Linked DNA regions of Homo sapiens: all the other regions are linked to region 3. The links come from fine-mapping of genetic effects on gene expression. A gene starts in region 3. Each other region holds a variant in brackets. All regions are shown on one strand. Distances are from middle to middle. Region 1 overlaps LOC105378482 (a long non-coding RNA gene). Region 2 holds the start of LOC105378482 (a long non-coding RNA gene). Region 3 holds the start of DUSP5 (dual specificity phosphatase 5). Region 4 has its middle 77 kb from the start of DUSP5-DT.

Evidence for each region. PIP is the estimated chance that this variant, and not a neighbour inherited with it, causes the effect.
Region 1: its variant is fine-mapped to the expression of DUSP5 in whole blood (INTERVAL, PIP above 0.99).
Region 2: its variant is fine-mapped to the expression of DUSP5 in whole blood (TOPMed, PIP above 0.99).
Region 4: its variant is fine-mapped to the expression of DUSP5 in whole blood (TOPMed, PIP above 0.99).

What each region holds. Positions count from the first base shown.
Region 1 is chr10:110,424,732-110,429,877 of GRCh38, forward strand. LOC105378482 (a long non-coding RNA gene) reads right to left here. Exons shown (of 4, transcript NR_188210.1): 4 at 4,109-4,279. Among named protein-coding and RNA genes, the nearest start is that of DUSP5-DT, 69 kb to the right of the region's middle. RefSeq lists a silencer at 1,292-1,341 and enhancers at 4,418-4,667, 4,678-4,777. The variant T/A (reference allele first, on the strand shown) is at 2,152.
Region 2 is chr10:110,445,383-110,450,528 of GRCh38, forward strand. LOC105378482 (a long non-coding RNA gene) reads right to left here and starts at 2,054. Exons shown (of 4, transcript NR_188210.1): 1 at 1,713-2,054. The variant G/A (reference allele first, on the strand shown) is at 2,188.
Region 3 is chr10:110,495,230-110,500,375 of GRCh38, forward strand. It overlaps DUSP5 (dual specificity phosphatase 5), which reads left to right and starts at 2,678. Exons shown (of 4, transcript NM_004419.4): 1 at 2,678-3,271. The coding sequence starts at 2,893. DUSP5-DT (DUSP5 divergent transcript) reads right to left here and starts at 1,253. Exons shown (of 2, transcript NR_187547.1): 1 at 1,159-1,253. RefSeq lists an enhancer at 1,200-1,723 and silencers at 2,205-2,734, 2,745-2,884, 2,955-3,014, 3,135-3,404.
Region 4 is chr10:110,417,135-110,422,280 of GRCh38, forward strand. No RefSeq gene overlaps it. Among named protein-coding and RNA genes, the nearest start is that of DUSP5-DT, 77 kb to the right of the region's middle. RefSeq lists an enhancer at 423-923. The variant C/A (reference allele first, on the strand shown) is at 2,302.

The DNA of each region.
Region 1 (5,146 bases), 70 kb before region 3:
ACCTCCCAGGCTCAAGCCATCCTCCCACCTCAGCCTTCTGAGAAGCTGGGACTACAGGTGTGTGCCACCATGCCCAGTTGATTTTTATAGGTTTAGTAGAGACAAGGTTTCACCATGTTTCCCAAGCTGGTCTAGAACTCTTGGGCTCAAGTGATCCACCTGCCTCGGCCTCCCAAAGTGCTGTGATGACAGGTGTGAGCCATGGCGCACGGTCCCCCATGCACATTTAAAGCATGGAAAATAAAATCCTGGAAGGACACATGGCAAACTGTTAACAGCATTTACCTCTAAGGTAGAAAAAAGATCTTAAATTTTTTCTTTTATACTTCTGCACTGTTTGAATCTCTTAAAATTAGCACATACTATATATGATGAACACCCCCTCCCAAATAAATATGAAAGGGGCTGGAAGGGGTCAGGTGGTCAACTCTCTCCAAGGTGCAACCAGAGGTAGCTGAGACTAACATGACATAGGTCCCTGTTGGAGGACGATGTCCCCAGTAAACCCAAATTAATTGAGTGACACCATAAAAAAACAGAATAGGGAGGAGTGGGGAAGACCAGTCCCTTTCCTTGTGTCCAGGGATCCCACCCATCTACACCTCCATCCTCCAGTGCCTGGCTAAGGCCCTCCTTAGTGCCCGGGCACAGACTGTGCTCTTCGGAGATGGCTCAAGTGGGCTGTGTGCTTAGGGAGATGGGGCACATGACTGTTAACTACTTTAAAAGTCCTCAATGGGTTTTTTGTTGTTTCTGTTTTTGAGATGGAGTTTTGCTCTTGTTGCCCAGGCTGGAGTGCAATGGCGTGACCTCAGCAACCTGCAACGTCCGCCTCCCAGATTCAAGGGATTCTCCTACCTCAGCCTCCCAAGTAGCTGGGATTACAGGTGTCTGCCACCACACCCAGCTAATTTTTTGTATTTTTAGTAGAGATGGGGTTTCACCATGTTGGTCAGGCTGGTCTCGAACTTCTGACCTCAGGTGATCCACCCTCCTCGGCCTCCCAAAGTGTTGAAATTACAGGCGTGAGCCACCGTGCCCGACCCTGAATGTTTCTGAAGCATGCTGTTTCTTCATTCTGGAATATTCACTAAAAGAGCCCCTACGAATAATTAACCCAGTAGTAATAATAATGCCCACCATTTGTCATTCTTTCTATGTGCTCTGTACATTACACGTGCATCTCAGTTTATCCCAATCAGTAGGCGGTTCCATCCTTCAATTTCATTTTACAAATGAAGAAACCAAAGCTCACAGGGGACATGTAACTTGCCGAAGTTCACATAGCCACAGAGGGCAGAAGCTGAATTCAAACCACTCACTCTGACTCAGCATCCACCTCAGAGCAGCCATTCAGTGGCCTCTTGTGACACATAAAGCAAGAAGATACCAGTGAGTTTTTGGACCATGTCTTCTTGGTAAAGTTACCATTAGTCTGACCACAGATGTTTCTCAAGAAGCAGTGAAGGGGTTGGTTTGGTGATGTCAGTGGCCGGGGTCAGATGAACCAAACCATTGCTAGGCTGTGATGTCTGAGGCTGCCCACGAACTGGTTATTGCCCAGATTTAAAAGAAAGGTGGAAAAAATTATCCTAGTCTACCATATGGCTCAGCCAGCCATAGTGTTTACATAGTCAGAAAAGGTCAACACAGAATAGCGATATAATCAAAATTACCCTCTACGGTGTGGCTGTATTGGGAAGAGAGAGGCGGGGGTGGGTGTGAGGCAACAGGAGCTAAAAGAACTCCTGGTCTCCCAGGGCAGGAAATCAAGAAAAAACTCCTAAAACTACACAGATCAAGAAGAAACTATGTGAGATGTTATTTAGAGACATGAAAGTGAACATTCCAAAGAATCCGTTTCAAGAGTCGAAAGTGGCCACCCTGGAGATGGGTCAGGGCTGCAGTTGTTCATGACTAACTTTGTACATTTCTGAGAAATCTATGCTTATGTGTAACTTCTCTTAAAATAAAAAATTTAATAAAATCCAAAGCAAAAACAAACAGAGCAATTCTGGCCCCATTTGGGGAGGGAGTGGGCTGTGATTACGAGAATGAGGGCCCAGCGGGTGGGGATTCCTCTGTCAGGCATGCAACGGGAAGCTGGTGGGGTCTTGGCAAGGCTTTGGTGGAGAGACGTCATTGGAATGG[T/A]GACCTCATTTGGAACCGGTGAGGGCAGGAGAAGGTAGAAGGGTTAAAAAGAAGAAGAACCACCAAAGGAGAAGAAAAGGAAGCCTGGTCATTCTACAGCCAAGGTCATACTCCCAGGAGACCTACGGCCTTTTGTCGGGGTTACACAAATGTAAAACAAAGGTGTGGTCTCTCCACTAAATGGGGAAGTTTCCACCAGGAGGCCAGTGTGTCATTGAGTAATGTGAATAGTGGAACCCATCCCCAGCTAGTCAGGCCCACACATTCCATACCAGGACCCACGGGCCTCGGGGGTAGAGGCAGGAAGGTAGCATTTGTCTATTGTGAGAACAAGCAGCTTATGTAGACATCAAAGGTCTCAGGATAGCGTATATTCTTCCAGATCTGTGAGGCCCAAACACACACACATGGAGGAGGATCCCAGGGTCTCAGCCCCTCCCCAGATTCTCAAGACTCAGGCCTTGTCCCCTCTCCCATGGGGGTCCTATTGAAAGGAATCCAGAGACCCTGGGAGAATCTGAGTAGGAAGAGGGAACTGGACTTACTGCCATAGGCCCAGGCCTGGGTCAGGACTGTGTCTCTCTGGAAAAGCCACTCTCTTGGGAACTGAGAAAGCCCAGAGCTTGGGCCCAGAGCAGCCCAGGCCTTGACTGGCCTGCCTGTTCCGTCCTCCTGTCTTCTCCAGGAAGCATTTTCTCCTTCCTTCCTTCCTTTCTTTCTTTCTTTCTTTCTTTCTTTCTTTCTTTCTTTCTTTCTTTCTTTCTTTCTTTCTTTCTTTCTTTTTTCCTTCCTTCCTTTCTTTCTTTCTCTTTCTTTCTTTCTTTCTTTCTTTCTTTCTTTCTTTCTTTCTTTCTTTCTTTCCTTTCTTTCTTCCTTCCTTCCTTTCTTTCTTTCTTTCTTTCTTTCTTTCTTTCTTTTCTTTCTTTCTTTTTCTTTCTTTCTCTTTCTCTCTCTCTTTCTTTCTCTCTCTTTCTTTTTTCTCTTTTCTTTTTTTTTTTTTGAGACAGAGTTTTGCTCTGTCACCCAGGCTAGAGTTCAGTGGTGCAATCTTGGCTCACTGCAACCTCTGCCTCCTGGGTTCAAGCGGTTCTCCTGCCTCAGCCTCCCGAGGAGCTAGTATTACAGGCATGTGCCACTGCGCTTGGCAAATTTTTGTATTTTTTAGTAGAGACAGAGTTTCAGCATGTTGGCCAGGCTGGTCTTGAACTCCTGACTTGAGGTGATCTGTCCACCTCAGCCTCCCAAAGTGCTGGGATTACAGGTGTGAGCCACTGCACCCAGCCCAGGAAGCATTTTCTCGATGAGCTCACCAACTCACACCCTGCCTTTACATAACTAGTGTCTCAGTGTTCTGACCTCCAGATATTTGGTCTATAGAGGACACCTCAGCCTGTCTGAGGAAAGACTGATTTGGTGGGGACAGGCCCAGCCCTTAGTGTTATAGGCCTGAGTTTGAACCCCAGTTTTTCACCTGCTAGTTGTGTGGATGCTTTGTTTTTGTTTTTGTTTTGTTTTGTTTTTGAGACAGGGTCTTGTTCTGTCACCCAGGCTGGAGTGTACTGGCAGGATCATGGCTCACTGCAGCCTCAGCCTCCTGGGCTCAAGCAATCCTCCCACCTCAGCCTCCCAGGTAGCTGGGATGACAGGTGCATGCCACCACGTTTGCCTAATTGTTGTATTTTTTTATAGAGACAGGGTGTCACCATGTTGCCCAGGCTGGTCTTGAACTCCTGGGCTCAAGCATTCCTCCTGCCTTGGCCTCCCAAAGTGTTAGGATTATAGGCATGAGCCATGGTGCCTCACCTGTGTGGACTCTTTGAGGCCCAATTTCCTCATCTGAGAACGTTAGGATGAAAACTCACTCCCAAGAGTTGCGAGGCTCAAAAGTGCTACCCTGGGTTAAGCACTGGCCCAAAGTGGAACTGGATTGGAAGAATGGTTAAGACTCAGGCTAGGATGGGGTTGGAGGGAGGCAGGGCCTTGGCAGCCCTCTCCCTTGCAGCAGTGATTTTTATTAAGGCAGGAACTGGACTGGACACACTCAGACAATCACCTTCATGCTGGAGATGTGGCTGGCGCTGGCAAAACCTCTGTGAGATGCTGACTCAGGACAGGTGCCGCTGAGGCCCTTTAGGAAACAGAATTCCACCCATTAGAACCCCTTCAAATGGGGAAGCAGCTAAGTTTGTAGTCCCGCTTCAGGTAGGTTTGGAGGGGTTTCTCATTCTCTCTCAATTTGAGTTCAGATGCAGATGCCTCCTGGGAACTGAAACCCCTCCTATGCTTGGCCTGTATCTTGTTTGGATGCTGCTGTGTCTTGTAGCCATGCCACTGGGGTCACCAGCCAGGGCACATCATTGTCACACAGCCTCCAGCTTCCCAATTCTGACCCTTACCTGCAAAGCCCTCCCTCTGTCCCCTGGGGCTCACCAACACTGTTTCCCATCTCCCTTTTTCTTTCATCTTCACCACAGCCTGGGACAGATGTCAGGGAGGGATAATTATCTACATTTTAGAGAGGAACAAACTGATCCAGAGAAGTAGAGTGACTCACTGTTCTTGCCTGGCTGGATCTAGTCATCTCCTAACCCAGCTACCATCTCTCTAATCCACCCAGCCCTGTCACCTGTCACCAGGGTTACCTTCTTAAAGCCAATGCCCCATTCAGACTTCTGGCTATTTTCCAGTGAGCACCCAGTAAAGAGTCCCCAGCTGCCCTCTCCTGCGTCATCACTCCCGTGTCCCTTTCTACACCCCATGCTGTGACCACATCAGCCCACTCACTCTTCCTACTATATGTTCTCCCCATCTCAGTGGCTCCCCTCATGCTGCATTCTCTGCCTGGTATTCTCTCCCTTCCCTCCCTTCCTTCTCTGAATGTCAAAGTTGAATTCCTCCACCAGGGTCCAGCTCAAATGTTACCGCCTGCTTTGGAGCCTCCCCCGCCAGTCCCCAGTAAGCATGAATCTCTTCTTTCTCTGCACTCGCTGAGTGC
Region 2 (5,146 bases), 50 kb before region 3:
AAGATTTTCATGACTAGAAGGATACATTCCTCTGATATCTATATTGAAGCTACTGTCATTAATAATTAAAAATGGAAAACAAAAACCTAGGCTAATGCGGTTTCTGGAACCAAGCATTTAATTTTACTTTGAGCCCCGTGCCTTATACAGAGCTTGAACAGAGGAGATGCTCAAAAAATCCATTGGTTAGTGGACATTTTGTGCTCACTGGATCCCGAAGCAGGTACCCAGTCAACACTTGTTAACAGAAACCAGTAGTCAAATACTATTGGTCCCAACCACTGTCCCTGGACCCCAGCTGGGACCCTTATCCAGGTGAGAGTCGGAGGAGTGTGGTCAGCCTTGGGCTGAGTTGTGAGATCCTCTCCCCTGCAATGGGGTGAGGGTAAGGAGAGCACTGACCACTGTCACTACCGAGTGTCTGGGAGTGGTGGACACAAGCAGGGTCTTCCTTTCCTGACTGCCCTTTTAATACAGTATGCAGAGGATGTGTGGACTCAGCCTCATTAAATATTTACTGCCTGTCCCCAGCCTACCTACCCTCCTCCAAACACGTGCAGGTGTACAGGTGAGCAGAGGCCAGGGCTGAAACTCTCGTTCTCACATCTCTCTAGGAGCCAGAATCCAACCCCCTAGGATTCCTTTCCTCAGACCCAGGATATGAAATCACACCCAGAACACTGTGGGCACACCATGGCCTCAAAGGCAACACACGTCCATGTGTTGGCACCATCTTCCTCCAAACCAGATGACTTTTCCAGCTTCCCTCTCTGACATAGCCCCACATTCGCCCCATCACTCAAGCTCAAGGCCTCCATTTCCTCCATCTGTACCCCACTACCCCCAGTCCCGTCTCCAGACACCAGATGTTAGGAGCACTTCCTTCGGCAGCAACCTCCAGCCTTCCATCCCCTCTATTCTCCCCAGCAGCCCTGCTACCAGCCAATCAGTGTTCATGTCTGGGCTATTGCAGTAGACTCCTAACTTGTTTTCCTGATCCCAGGCCGTCCACCTCCAATCCAGCCTGCACCAGATGAATTAGAGCAGAGCACTCTTTTCCTCCATGCATGGCACAGCCCAGAAACATCTGAGAGCTTCCCATTGGCTTCAGAATGAGAGTCTCACTTGCTCACCAGCATTCATTTAATTTAGCCAACACTTACATCATTCTGGGCCAGGTACTATTTATTCTAAGTGCTTTGCAACTATTCACTCATTTAAACTTTATAAAATGAATTTGGTACTGTTATGATCACTGTTTTACAGATGGAGAAACTGAGTCACAGAAGGGTTAAGTAACTTGTCAAGGTCCCAGCATTAGTAAGCAACAGAATTCAAATTTGAACCCAAGTAGTGTAGCTCCAGAGTCCTCATTCCTGTCTTTGGGCATTTGTGTCCAGAATGCTCCATGCCACTTCGCTGACTACTTTCCCAAGGCTGAGTGTCTCCTTCGCCTTTTCCAAGCTTCTCTTCCATTTCTAGTGGCTCAGCCCAAGGGCGAGACAAACTGATCTGAGTATGATTGCCTAGTCCTTTCCTTCCCATGAGGACTCCTTTGCTCTACCTTCCTCCTATGTGGACTGCCATCCACACCCCATCTCCAGCTCGTTCTTACCCTCTGTCCAGGCTGAGCTCTTCTCACTTCTCTGACACCTCCACCCTCCATTCTCAGTGGTCATGCACACCTCCCAAAACTTCCCCTCAGCCCTCACCTGGTGCTCTTGTCTAGTCTGTAGTATCAGTCGTCTTGTGGGGTCCGTAGAGATTCTATCTTTCTAGTTCCTTGAGGGTAATGAGAGAGCATGTTGCAATTCTCACTTATCTCCCCCAGTAGTCTGTTGCCAGAGGAAGCCGGAAGTAGCCAGAGGGAGCCAGAGGGACTAGTGAGACTGGACCAGTGAGGCAACCACAGGAAGGGACACAGAGTCAGCTAGGGGTAGGCTCTGCCTTCCTGGAAAAGGCCCTACACAGACTTGTTGGGCCATGCAAGGTGAGAAAGGATGGTCCCAAGATTCGGCTTCTGCCTGCCTCTTCCACAAAGCTCCTGGCACTCTGGCCTCCTCATTCCCATCCCAGGGCATCTGTGCCAAGAATGCTGTGTTCCCATGTTGCTGCAGAGCCAGATTCCTGTCTCACAGCAGATGCTGCCTGAGTCACTTCCTCTTTGAGGCCTTCCCTGACCACTCC[G/A]TCCAATTTGTTGCCATTTCTCTTCCCCTATCTCTAGAGCCTCTCTCTCAGCATTGCCTTGTTTTATTTTTCTTTTTAATACTTACCAGTTTCCAAAGATATGACTTGATTCCTCAACCATTGTCACCCACCACCCCAATTAAAATGTAAGTTTCATGAGACATATCTCCCTTGTTCACCTCTGAACCGTAGGTCCTCACACATGCCTGGCACAGAGTAAGCCACTGATAAATATTTATTGAATGAAAGAAAGTATGGCCAGGGTCAGTAGCTCACGCCTGTAATCCCAGCACTTTGAAAGACTGAGGCAGGAGGATTACTTGAGCCCAGGAGTTGGAGACCAGCCTGGGGAACATAGTGAGATCCCTGTCTTATTTTAAAAAAGAAAAAAAAAGAAAAAGAATGCATGAAGGACCAAATGAATGAATCTTGTTTGTTGCAAACCAATGCAGCCACACATGGGCCTGCGCTTCTCCTGTCTTTCTTTGGCTGGAAAAGACCATCTGTGTCCACAGGCAACTGCAACAAAGAACCTCATCCCAATGAGTGCTTTTGTCAAGATGCCAAAGAGGCCATGTGGGCAGATCTGGAGAGGTCAGGAAATAGGGACTAGGGATGAGAGTGGTCTTGGTCCCCAGAAATTCCCACTTAAGTGGAGATGAGCTGCAGAAACCCTTTTTTGGTTTTAATCTTAATGCAAATCTTTAAAATGTGTACATAATTTTTACCATTGTGGTAGGCAAAATAGCTTAATGTAGGCATAACTGCCTTAACCAACCATTTTCTTACTGAGCTCTCACATGAACCCTAAAAGGTAACTAGAAATCTGTTTTTAATGGAAGACATAGTTGAGGTTCAAAGATATTAAACTACTTGCCAAAAATTACTCAGTTCTAAATTTTGTCCTAGACCAGAACATTACCGAATGATGTTTGACCTCCTCACTCATATTGCAATGAGATCCTTTGTACAGAAGAGACCCTAAGTAGGGGTGGGAGAATATTGATAATATTTAACCCGTATTGAGCTATTTCTATGTGTCAGGCACTTTTCTGAGACACTTAAATATAGAAACTAATTTAATCCTGACAATGTCCTTTTAAGAAATGAACTCTTGTATGGGGTGGGACTGTGCAAGGTGGAGCAGCAACAGAGGTGAGGGCTCAGCAGGCAGTCACAGGATAGGGCTGTGGGAGCCAGGCCACTGAGGTTGGGGCTGACTGAACTCACGGACCTGATACTTTTCTCGAGAAACAAACCAGCTCAAAAGAAAAATGGCATTTGTTGCAACACAAGGAGCCGTGGTGGTTGACCAAACCACTCTGATGAAAAAGTACCTTCAGTTTGTGGTAGCTCTCACAGATGTAAATATAACTGATGAAACAAAGTTAAAAATCATGCAAGAAAGTATTTGCAAGCCTCATGGTGACCTCAAACCAAGAAACATGCAATGGATACACAAAAAATAAAAAGTAAGAAACTAAATCATATCACCAGAGAAAATCATCTTCAGTAGAAGAAGACAGGAAGGAAAGAAAGAAGAGAAAACCAGAAAACAACCAGAAAGCAAATAACAAAATGGCAGGAGTAAGTCCCTACTTTCAATAATAACACTGAATGTAAATGGACTAAACTCTCCAATCAAAAGACACAGATTGCTGGAATGGATGTAAAAACAAGACCCATTGATCTACTGCCTGCAAGAAACACACTTCACCTATAAAGACACAGACAGACTGAAAATAAAGAGATGGAAAAAGATATTCCATGCCAATGGAAACCAAAAAGAGCAGGAGTCACTATACTTATATCAGACAAAAACTATAAGAGACAAAGAAGACCACTATATAATGATAAAGGGGTCAATTTAGCAAGAGGATACAACAATTTAAAATGTATATGCACCCAACACTGGAGCACCTAAACATATAAAGGAAATATTATTAGAGCTAAAAACAGAGATAGACCCCAATACAATAATAGCTGGAGACTTCAACACCACTTTCAGCATTGGACAGATCTTCCAGACAGAAAATCAACAAAGAAAAATCAGACTTAATCTGCACTATAGACCAAATGGATCTAAGAGATATTTACAGAACATTTTATGCAAGAGCTGCAGAATATACATTCTTTTCCTCAGCACATGGATCATTCTCAAGGATAGACCATATGTTAGGTCACAAAATAAGTCTTAAAGCATTCAAAAAAGTTAAAATAATATCAAGCATCTACTCTGACCACAATGGAATAAAACTAGAAATTAATAACAAAAGGAATTTTGGAAACTATACAATATATGGAAATTAAACAATCTGTTGCTGAATGACCAGTGGGTCAATGAAGAAATTAAGAAGGAAATTGGGCCGGGTGTAGTGGCTCACACCTGTAATTCTAGCACTCTGGGAGGCCTACGTGGGCCAATTCCTTGAGCTCAGGAGTTCAAGACCAGCCTGGGCAACATGACAAAACCCTGTCACTACAAAAAATACAAAACTTAGCTGGGTGTGATGGCACATGCCTGTATTTCCTCCTGTATTCCCAGGGGGCTGAGGTGGGATGTTAAGGTTGCAGTGAGTCGAGATCACACCACCACACTCCAGCCTGGGTGGCAGAGCCAGACCCTATCTCAAAAAAAAAAAAAAAAAAAAGAAAAGAAAAGAAAAGAAAAGAAAAGAAAAGAAAAAAAGAAAGAAAGGAAAGAGAGAAAGAAAAAGAAAAAAGGAATGAAAAAACTTCTTGAAACAAATAATAATGGAAAAACAACATAACAAAACCTATGGGATACAGCAAAAGCAATACTAAGAGGGAAGTTTATAGCTAAAAGTGCCTACATTGAAAAAGAGGAAAAGCTTCAAATGAACAATCTAACAATGCAGCTTCAAAGACTATAAAAGCAAGAGCAAACCAAACCCAAAATTAGCAGAAGAAAAGAAATCATAAAGATCAGAACACAAAT
Region 3 (5,146 bases):
AGCGAGACTCTGTCCTAAAAAAAGAAAAAGAAAAGAAAAATGCTAACCGGGTGTGGTGGCTCAATCCCAGCACTTTAGGAGGCTGAGGTGGGAGGATTACTTGAGGCCAGGAGTTTGAGCCCACCCTGGCCGACATAGTGAGAACAAGCTTTTTTTTTTTGAGACCGAGTTTCGCTTTTGTTGCCCAGGCTGGAGTGCAATGGCGCGATCTCGGCTCACTGCAACCTCCGCCTCCCAGGTTCAAGCGATTCTCCTGCCTCAGCCTCCCAAGTAGCTGAGATTATAGGCATGCGCCACCATGCTCGGCTAATTTTTTTGTATTGTTAGTAGAGACGGGGTTTCTCCATGTTGGTCAGGCTGGTCTCGAACTCCCGACCTCAGGTGATCCGCCTGCCTCCGCCTCCCAAAGTGCTAGGATTACAGGCGTGAGCCACCGCGCCCGGCCCGAGAACCTATCTAAAAAAAAAAAATCCGGAAACAAAAAAATCTTTGGTGTCCCTCTCCAGTTCTCTCTCCCCATCTCACCCCTCCCAGCATCTCACTTCCTCAATGTGCTCCCATTCCTATGGCCTCCCCATAGCTGCTGTCACTGCCAAGTTCTGGCAAGTCCATATCAGCTCATGTCTAGATTACCCATGAAATCCTCCCATCCATCCCCCAGACTCCGGACCCCACCACCACTCTCAAATAAAGCACCGATCCCGCACAGAGCCGCCTCAGCGATGTTCCCAAATGCTATCCGGATCTTGTCACTGAGTAAGATCCCTCGTTGGGGACTGCCCGGCCAAAGACTAAGACCCAAATGACTCAAAACAGCACAAGGCCCTCTGTTGCCTGACCCTGCTTAATCTGCTAATAAATACCAGAAGGGCCTTAGTCTCCCACATACCTCCAGTACGCACCATGCTGGGGGGGTTGCGTTTTTTGTTTTCTTTACCCCAAGCAGTTTCCTCTGCCTGGAATCTCCCCTCCTGCTTCGCAGCCTGGCTTACAATTCATTCCTCGGAGTTGGCCTCAGCTCTCCTCTCCTCGGGAGGCCTTCTCCAGCCCACGCCCCACCCTGCCACACCCCTACTGGGCGCTCTTCCCCACGGACTACAGGCCTTCCCCTTCCCTCTGGGCTGGGGGCAGCTGGGGCTGAGTATAAGTCTTACTCACGTTGGTGCCGCCAGCCCCAAAACAAAGCCTGGCCCACGTGGGTGCTCCGCGTATGTGTGTGGCTCTAGGCGGAGATGCCGGGGGTGGAAAGAGCCGGTAACAGAAACAGAACGTGCTAGAGGAAGAGCAGCCTGCAGGGAAGGCTGGCACAGATAACCACAAAAAGAAAGAAGGCCCCCGCATCACGTCTTCACCAAGACCCCACTGGCAAGGCGAGGACAGCGCCTTTGGGTGGATGCATCTGTGACCCAGAGGCAATGCTGGCTGTCCTGGTGTCTGATTTGATTGCATCTGATTTCAAAATTTGATCTCTGCTTCCTTCTGAAAACCTCATTCCCTTATGTCAGTTGTCAACAAGCCCTTGTCTAGTGCGGGCAGACTGTTTTCCATCAAGCAGTCCCAGCCAGGCTAACAATAAAATGGTTGGCAGTGAGCTTGGGGGCAGAAACCTGTTTCCATCCATGTGTCCCCGCAGCTAGCAAAGCCCTGGCACACGGCTGACCCTCAATAAATGCTTGCTGAATGGGTGAATTGTGTCTGCTTCCCCAGGAATAGGGGTGGGAGGCCTGAAGCCCCTGGGGACCGGTGGGGGCAGACAGCCTGAGATTAAACTTGATCCATAGATAATCCCCCAAATCCAGAAGCCACCTGGACAACAGTTGGCTGAACTGAGCTCCATCGTGGGATACATGCTGATGGTACTGCTGAGTTCACCAAGGGTCTCCCCGGGACCAGAAAACAGCTCCTCAAAATACAACTTATTATTCTAATCATTATTGGAGAGTGACAGAGAAAAGAGCGTCAATCCTTTGAGGGCAGAATCCATTTAGGAAGATTAAATGGCTATTCTCACCGCCGACCCCCAACCCCCGTTTTTACTTTTACAAACTTTATTATGAAAAATATCAAACATACAGAAAAGTGGAGAAAACAGTATAACGAATCCGGCCACCCATCACCCAGCCTCAGCGATGACCAACCCGCGCCTGACCTCTCCAGTCATCTATACCCCACCCCTCGAGGCAAATCTCCGACGTCCTCTCCTTACACGCGCAGACCTCGGTAGCGACGGGAATCCGTTCCGGACTCCTCTGGGGCCCTGGCCGGCTCCCTCGGCCCTGCTCAGCGCGGCGCGGGCGGGTTCTCAGCCCACGTCCGTGAAGCTGAAGGCCGGATCGTGCGGCGCCGCCCCGCCCCCCACGGCGCTTCCTCCTCGGTCCGCACCGCGAGGGTCACCGCGGCCCCGGAGCGCCTGGGACACTCGACCGGCAGCCGCGGGTGATGCGCGAGTGAGTCCCTCAGCGAAGCGCGGAAGAGAGAACGAAGAGGCGCCTTCCACTTCCTCTCGCTCTAACGCCGGCACCCGCCCCGCGCGTCCCTCGCCCCCGCTGCCCCGCCCCCTGCAGGGCGTGGCCACGGCCCGAGGGGCGGGGAAACACCCATATTTGGCCTTATATGGGCAGCCGCGTCACGGACGGCACTCATTCACATAAAACGCTGCGCGGCCGGCGGAATCCCCGGCTTCTAGGGCGGCGAGCGGCCGGGCTGGCTATCGAGCGAGCGGGGCGGGAACGCGGAGTTGCGCCGCCGCTCGGGCGCCGGGCTCCGTCGCGGCCGCAGCCCCGCGGGTCGCCCTCCCGTGCCTCGCCCGCGGACACCCTGGCCGTGGACACCCTGGCCGTGGGCACCCGCGGGGCGCGCGGCGCGGGGCCGCTGGCCGGCGGCGGCGGCGGCATGAAGGTCACGTCGCTCGACGGGCGCCAGCTGCGCAAGATGCTCCGCAAGGAGGCGGCGGCGCGCTGCGTGGTGCTCGACTGCCGGCCCTATCTGGCCTTCGCTGCCTCGAACGTGCGCGGCTCGCTCAACGTCAACCTCAACTCGGTGGTGCTGCGGCGGGCCCGGGGCGGCGCGGTGTCGGCGCGCTACGTGCTGCCCGACGAGGCGGCGCGCGCGCGGCTCCTGCAGGAGGGCGGCGGCGGCGTCGCGGCCGTGGTGGTGCTGGACCAGGGCAGCCGCCACTGGCAGAAGCTGCGAGAGGAGAGCGCCGCGCGTGTCGTCCTCACCTCGCTACTCGCTTGCCTACCCGCCGGCCCGCGGGTCTACTTCCTCAAAGGTGAGCGCTCGGGGTCCCTGCCACGCTCGCCCCTCCGGCGCCCCCGGGTCCCCTCCCTGCGCCGGGGCGCCCTCCTACACCCTGGGACCGGGAGAGTCACCACCTGCAGGAGTCTGCACCCTGTGGCTTGTTGTGCGCTTGGGAGGGCACTGCAAATGTCAGCACTCAGAGCTCCCCCTCTTCCCCACCCGCGTTCCTCGAAAGCGCCCGGCAGCGGGTCTGCCCGGTGGTCTGGGTGGAGTTGGTTATGCTGCGGGGGCTGCTGCTGTTTAGCAGTTTGGGGGCCGTCGGCTCGTGCCGGGCACGAGCCCCCTTTCCAGACGCGAGCTTCGCCGCTGTCGCTGGGGTCAGGGCTCGGGGCCTTCCTGATAGACTGATCTGGCGGGATCAGCAGGTCGCGATCCACTCTCCCTTGGTGTGGCGCCGTGGTGCCCCCCTTCCTCCCGCCTAGCCAGCTGTGGTCTTCACCGACCCCCTTGCCTTTTTGACCTGGCGAGTCCCTTCCCTTTCCATTTCATTTTATTGCTTTTTATTGTTTCCCTCCGGCCTCTTCTCCCCTCCTAGGTCTTTTCTCTAGCTCAGTTTGGAGCTCACATCCTTTCCACCCTTTTCACCTCCTCCTTCCTCCGCCCCAGGATTATCCCTGGGACCCATCCTGAGCTGAGCCTACAGCCAGCCAGCCACGAAATAGAGGTGCGCGGGGGCAGGGTGGTATGGAGATTCTGCGGCCTTTGATTTGACACCTCCCGGAGCTACCGCCACAGGCCTGCCCATTTCACCTGCCGGGAAGATAACTTTGGCTTCTGGTGGTGGGTGGGTGATTGACTCTCAAAATCCAAAGCATTGGTTTTTTCTGGGTTACTTCCTATGACTGCTCCTGCTTTGTGTTTGAGTCCTTTGTAACCTCAAATGACACCCGGGGAGACCTGACCCACATGTAGAGATGAGGGTTTAGCCCCAGCAGGGCCCCAAGGCCGTGCCAGCCCTGGCGCGGACACCTTGGGATGTAACAGTGTTGGGGATCAGAGCTCGGTGCAGAGAGCCGGCGCCGAGTTAGGAGCCTGTTTTAAAGCCATGCAACTTGAGTTTCACACAGTCCGGGCCAGGAAGATTCTGGAGACAGTTCCCCTCTCTGCTAGCACCTCCTGCTGACTGGTCCCCTGTTGATTTCCTGTTGGAGAGTTAACAGAGGTAGATGGTAATCGTCCTTCTTCTAACAGCCTATCCCCCAGGGGATAGAGGGTTGGCCCTCTGGCTCTGCAGAGGTTTCAGCGTGCCTCCTGATTTCTTTCTCTTCCTAATATGGTTTTTATCTCCTGTGGTTTGGAGAAGTTTCTGCCTCAGTAGTATGAAAGAGGTTCCAGGAGACCCTCCCTGGTCCCACCTCTCCTCCCCATGCTTCTCTAAGCTGGCCCTGCTGACAGTTTAGAAGTTGTCGCCACAAAGTAGGCAGCTCTATAGACTCACATCTCAGGAAAACTGGGTTAAAATGTTTTTTAAAAGAAGGTAACATATACACAGGTAAAAATTTGAACAGCATGAAGGCCCTGTGATGAGAAGCGGGTCTTCTGCATATCTTAGAACCCAGTTCCACTCCCCAGAGACAGTCGTCAACTATTTTTTGTTTACCTTTAGATAGTTTTTCATAAGTATCTTAGAAATAGATTGATTTTGTATAGTCCCTGTCCTGCCTCTTGTATCTATCTAGATCTTGGAGACTTGTCCATATCTGATCATACATGTCTGTTTCACATTGAACCGGTCTCCTGTAATGACCATTAGGTTGCGTCCCGCCTCACTGCTCCAAGCAATGCGGTAGATGTCCTTCTCCATGTGCTCTTGCGTGTGCAGTGCCTTTCAGTAAATCATGAGAAT
Region 4 (5,146 bases), 78 kb before region 3:
GTGAGCAAGAGGGCTTCAGCTGGTCTTGACTTGGGCTGCAGAGCTCTTGGTCCAGGCAAATTCTCACTCCACAAACAATATCTGAGCTTTTCAGTGCTTTGAGATCTGCAGATAAGAGGCTATAAAGATGTATAAATTATTATTATGCTGAGGACAATTTCCTCCCTGGCTGGCAGCCTGCAAGGCTATGCCCAGTCCAATCTCTGCCCCCTAAGGGAGGACCTGAATGCAGGGGGAGATAAATGATGCCCAGAGCCCTCTGGCCAAGGCCAAGCCCACAGTATCCCCACCGGTGGAGAAGCCAGGCCAGGCCAGGCTGTCTTTCCCACCACATCCCACCCATCATGCCCAGCACGTGCCAGCAAGGCTTTTTCCTCTGGAGGAGGAGCTGCTAAGGTGCTGAGTCACCACCTTGATGTCAGCTGGTGCTCTCCACCCTGAGAAGAGTGCCCAGCAAGGGCGCAGCACATCAGCCTGTGCCAACAAACCTGCGGTGACCAGCCTGCTTTGGGGAGGAGTTATTTCCCCTAGGAGAGGGCACACGGTGAGCTGGGGGAATCTGTCCCTAACTCAGCCTGGGGTTCCTGCTGGGGACCATCTCACGGGGCCTCAGTGCACAAGGGTCCTTGTTGGAATAGGGCCCAGACTCCAGCTGCAGGGATGGATTGGGGGGATTTTGTTTGGTATCCCCCTGCCCCGGGAAGGAACCATTAGAAGGGAAAGGGGAGAGAGGAGGCCTCAGAAGTGGTACAAAGTGCCTGGGGGTCCTCCCACTTCATGGCTGTGGGCTTCTGGGTAGGTTACGCACCTACCAATCGTAAGTTGCTTTTTGTTGTTTTTCTTTTTTTGTATTTTTTTGTTTGTTTGTTTTTTGGAGACAAGATCGTGCTCCGTCACTCAGGCTGGAGTGCAATGGCATGATCACAGCTCACTGCAGTCTTGACCTCCCAGGTTCAAGCGATCCATTCACCTTAGCCCCCTGAGTAGCTGAGTCTACAGTCACCTGCCACCACACCCAGCTAATTTTTTTTTTTTTTTTGAGATGGCATTTCCCTCTTGTCATCCAGGCTGGGGTGCAATGGTGTGATCTTGGCTCACTGCAACCTCTGCCTCCCGAGTTCAAGCGATTCTCCTGCCTCGAACTCCTGAGCAACACGCCCAGCTAATATTTAAAAATTTGTAGAGATAAGGGTCTCAGCTTGTTGCCCAGGATGGTCTTGAACTCCTAGGCTCAAGCCATCCTCCTGCCTCGGCCTCCTAAAGTGCTGGGACACAGGCATGAGTCACCACGCCCAGCCCCTTTGGTTGTATTCTTCTTTTAAAGGTAAATGCAAACAGTTTTTTAAACTGAACAGAAACAATGCTCATACCTCCTCTGATGTTTTTTATCCAGCTCCCCTGTCCCCCATCCCTTTCCCAAAGCAATTGCTCTTACCAGTTTGAGGATATCCTTCCAAAAAGTTCTTCTAGGTATCTATACATACATATATGTGTGTGTATGTGGCTATCCTTTTATTTTTTAAATAAATAGGAACATTCTATGTACATTTTACTGGATTTTTTTTTTTTAATTTAATACCATCTTTTGGAAGTTGGTTCATATTGGCAGCTGGGATCTATGACTTTCTTTTTTTTCAACTTTTATTTTAAGTTCAGGGGTACATGTGCAGGATGTGTAGGTTTTCTTTTCTTTTCTTTTTTTTTTTTTTTTGAGATGGAGTTTCGCTCTTTCGCCCAGGCTGGAGTGCAGTGGCGCGATCTCGGCTCACTGCAACCTCTGCCTCCTGGGTTCAAGTGATTCTCCTGCCTCAGCTTCCTGAGTAGCTGGGATTACAGACGCCCACCACCACGTCCGGCTAATTTTTGTATTTTTAGTAGAGATGGGGTTTCACCATATTGGCCAGGCTGGTCTCAAACTTCTGACCTTGTGATCCATCTGCGTTGGCCTCCCAAAGTGCTAGGATTACAGGCGTGAGCCACTGCGCCCGGCTGGGCAGGTTTATTACATAGGTAAATGTGTGCCATGGTGGTTTACTACACACTATGTCTTTCTTTCTAAGGGGTATAGGCAAGCCCCCAGACCTCCCATGTGCTATTTAACAAGGCCTCTCTGGATAGACATTTAAAGGGTCTCCAGTCTCTTACTTCTTTGATGAATATTCTTTTGAATATGTCTATTTTAACTACTTCTCCTGCATTTGTGGGGTGCCCCGGTACACCCAGGGCACTGGAGGAGGCTGCAGGGACCAAGCGGATCATCGTGTGTGAACAAATGCCCAGCTCTCAAGTAGCCAAGGCAGC[C/A]CCAGTGGGACCTGAAGGAGGTGTCACGTGAACCAGGCTACAGACGGGGTTCAAAGAGGAAGTGGGCAGGGCAGATGAATAAGATTAATTTCTGAAATTATCTTAACAAGTTCTTTTCTGATTATAAAGTAAAACATCCTCATTATAGGAAATTTGGAAAATACTGAACAGATGTGAAAATAAGTCACCTGGATCCCCCTCATCTGGAGGTAACCACTGTTGATGTTTAAAACATTTCCTGTCCGCCTATTTTCTAGATACGAAGGATTTCTAGTGGTCAAAGGGAAATGAAGGAAGGGAATCCAGGGAGGGTCCTCTCTCAGCAGAGAAGGAACTGCAGGGAGCACCAGACTGTTTCAGAACACACAGAGAGGAGGTCAGACGCAAGAGGAGACAGGAGGAGATCATGGCAGACTGGGCAAGGGGCAGGGATGGGGGCTGACAATGCAGGTGAGCCTGAGGGTGGCAGGGAAGGATTTGCCCCTAGATCAAGAGAGCAAAAGACCTGAGGAGTCTGGCTTGGAGATTTTAAAGGGATATCTAAGAACAAATTTCACCAGGACTTTGGAAGAGCAAACCTGGCATTCCAAAGGGAGGTTCCTTTTAAAAATACTAACTTGAGAGTTGTAAAAAGAGATGCGAGGCCTGAGTGTGGCTGAGACTGCTAAGAAAAAGTTGTGGCTTCGCAGCCAAGAGTACAGGCTTGAAAACAGCAAGATTTTATTCGAGTCCCAAAGATGCCACTTACCAACTGTGTAGGATTGAGTGATTGACTTATCTTCACTGCTTCTCAGCTTCTCTACTTGTAAAGCATGGGTGACACTAATACACCTGTGTCAGAGGGTCAGCGTAAGGATTACACAAGGTAATGCAGCCAACAGCCTGGAATGGCACCAGGCACCCAGAGGCACTCAGTAATGTTGAGAGAATACAGAATGAGAGCAAAGAAGGGGCTGAGGCCAGAGCTGTGGTGGAAGGTGCTAGAAGGAAGAGGTGCCATTAAAGGTCCCAGAAGAGAGCAGCCTTCTGGACAGGAAGAGTGGCCCCTGTGCAGAGCAGTGCCTCTGGGGTTCAGAGAACATGTGGCGACAGTGCCAAACACTACCTGGGCCAAGGAAGGGCTCCAGGCCTAGAAGGTCTCTGGTGAGTGGCAACTTCAGAGCTGTTGCCATGGTGATGTGGACAGAAGCCAAAAGCTAGAGGTCCAGGGATAATGGGAGATGAGGAAGTCCAGTGGGTGAATTTTGTAAGATCTTCAAGAAGTTTGGCAGTGAAAGGAAAGGGGGAAGTCCTAGCTCAAGGGAAAGGTTGTAGGGAAGAGAGAAAGAGGTGTTTTGTTTTGTTTTGTTTAGAGTGAAGGATATTTCAACATGTTTATAGACTGAAAAGAAAAAAAATCAATATAAGTTCTCAAAGAGAGGAAGTGACTAAGGATGTACTCCACCTCTCTTACACTTCAGTTTCTCATTTGAAAAATCAGAGTGAGAATAAAGGATCTCTGAGGCCCTGCTAGCTTTTTTAGCTCTTTCATCCATCCATCCATCCATCCATCCATCCATCCATCCATCCAACCATCCATCCATCTATCCATCCATCCATCCATCTATCCATCCACCCATCCATCCATCCATCCATCCACCCACCCATCCATCCATCCATCCATCCACCCATCCATCCATCCAGTATTTTAATACACACATTCTGTAGACCTCTGGCCTGGCCTAAGTGCTAAGACGGAGGCCATGGGCTGCAAGGAAGTAGGAAAGAAAAGTAGAAGCAAAGACTCCCTTCTCCAGGGGCCTGTGTTTAACAGGAACAGTAGAGAAGACAATCAGGCAATGACTTAACAACATCACAAAAGGACCTTGAAAGCCATGCCCTTGTAACCATTTGACATCACATTCTAGCACTTACCCAAACCCCTGCCTGCCTCATCCCTGGCTTGCTAACCCCCAGCCTTTGAGAACCTGCCCTTGTTGTGTTAATCCCCTGAGTTCCCCCATGCCCAGCATTGTGCTGGCCCATGTAAGCAATCAGATAATTAGTACTTACTATGTCCATACATCCAAGTATTTATTGAGCATCCACAATGTACCAGGCACTGGGAGAGGATACTGAGCAAAACAGAGCTCTGCCCCCTTAAATTGTTTAGTCTTGAACTGGATGGTTTTGGGAAGCAAGACACAAGAGTCAGATGTGAATTTAAAATTGCAGCTGTGACAAGAGGAAGCAAGGCTTTCCACAAGCAGGGGGATCTGAGAAGGCCTCTCAGAGGAAGTCATTTGGGATCTGAAAGGGGAGCAGAAGGTCACCAGGTGAACAGCACTCCAGGTGGGACAGGGGCTCCACCTGTGCAAAAGCAAAAGGGAAAAGAGAGGAAGAAAGAGAAGAAAAGAGGTGGAGAAAGAGGGAGGACAGGAGCCTGAAAGCAGGCAGTGTGGCTGGGAGGGGGAGGCTCTAGACTGAAGCAGAGGCTGGTAGGGCCTGATAGCCAAGATCAGGAGTGTACTTTATCCGAGAGTGGTAGGAAGCCGTGGGAGTAATTTAAACATGGAAGGGACATGATCAGTTTTTGTTTCAAAGACATCTCCTTGAAGAAATGAGGTGCAGGTCAGTCTGTGTAGTTTGAGCTTATCATACAATACGGTATGTCTGGGACTGGGATGGGGGCTGGTTTTCTTCCTCTACTTTAGATTTAGATATTTCTGCAATCTTTTCTTTTCTTTTCTTTTAAGAAGTGAGTGCCAGGTGCGGTTGCTCACACCTGTAATCCCAACACTTTGGGAGGCTGAGGCAGGTGGATCCTTTGAGCCCAGTAGTTCTGACCAGTCTGGGTAACATAGCA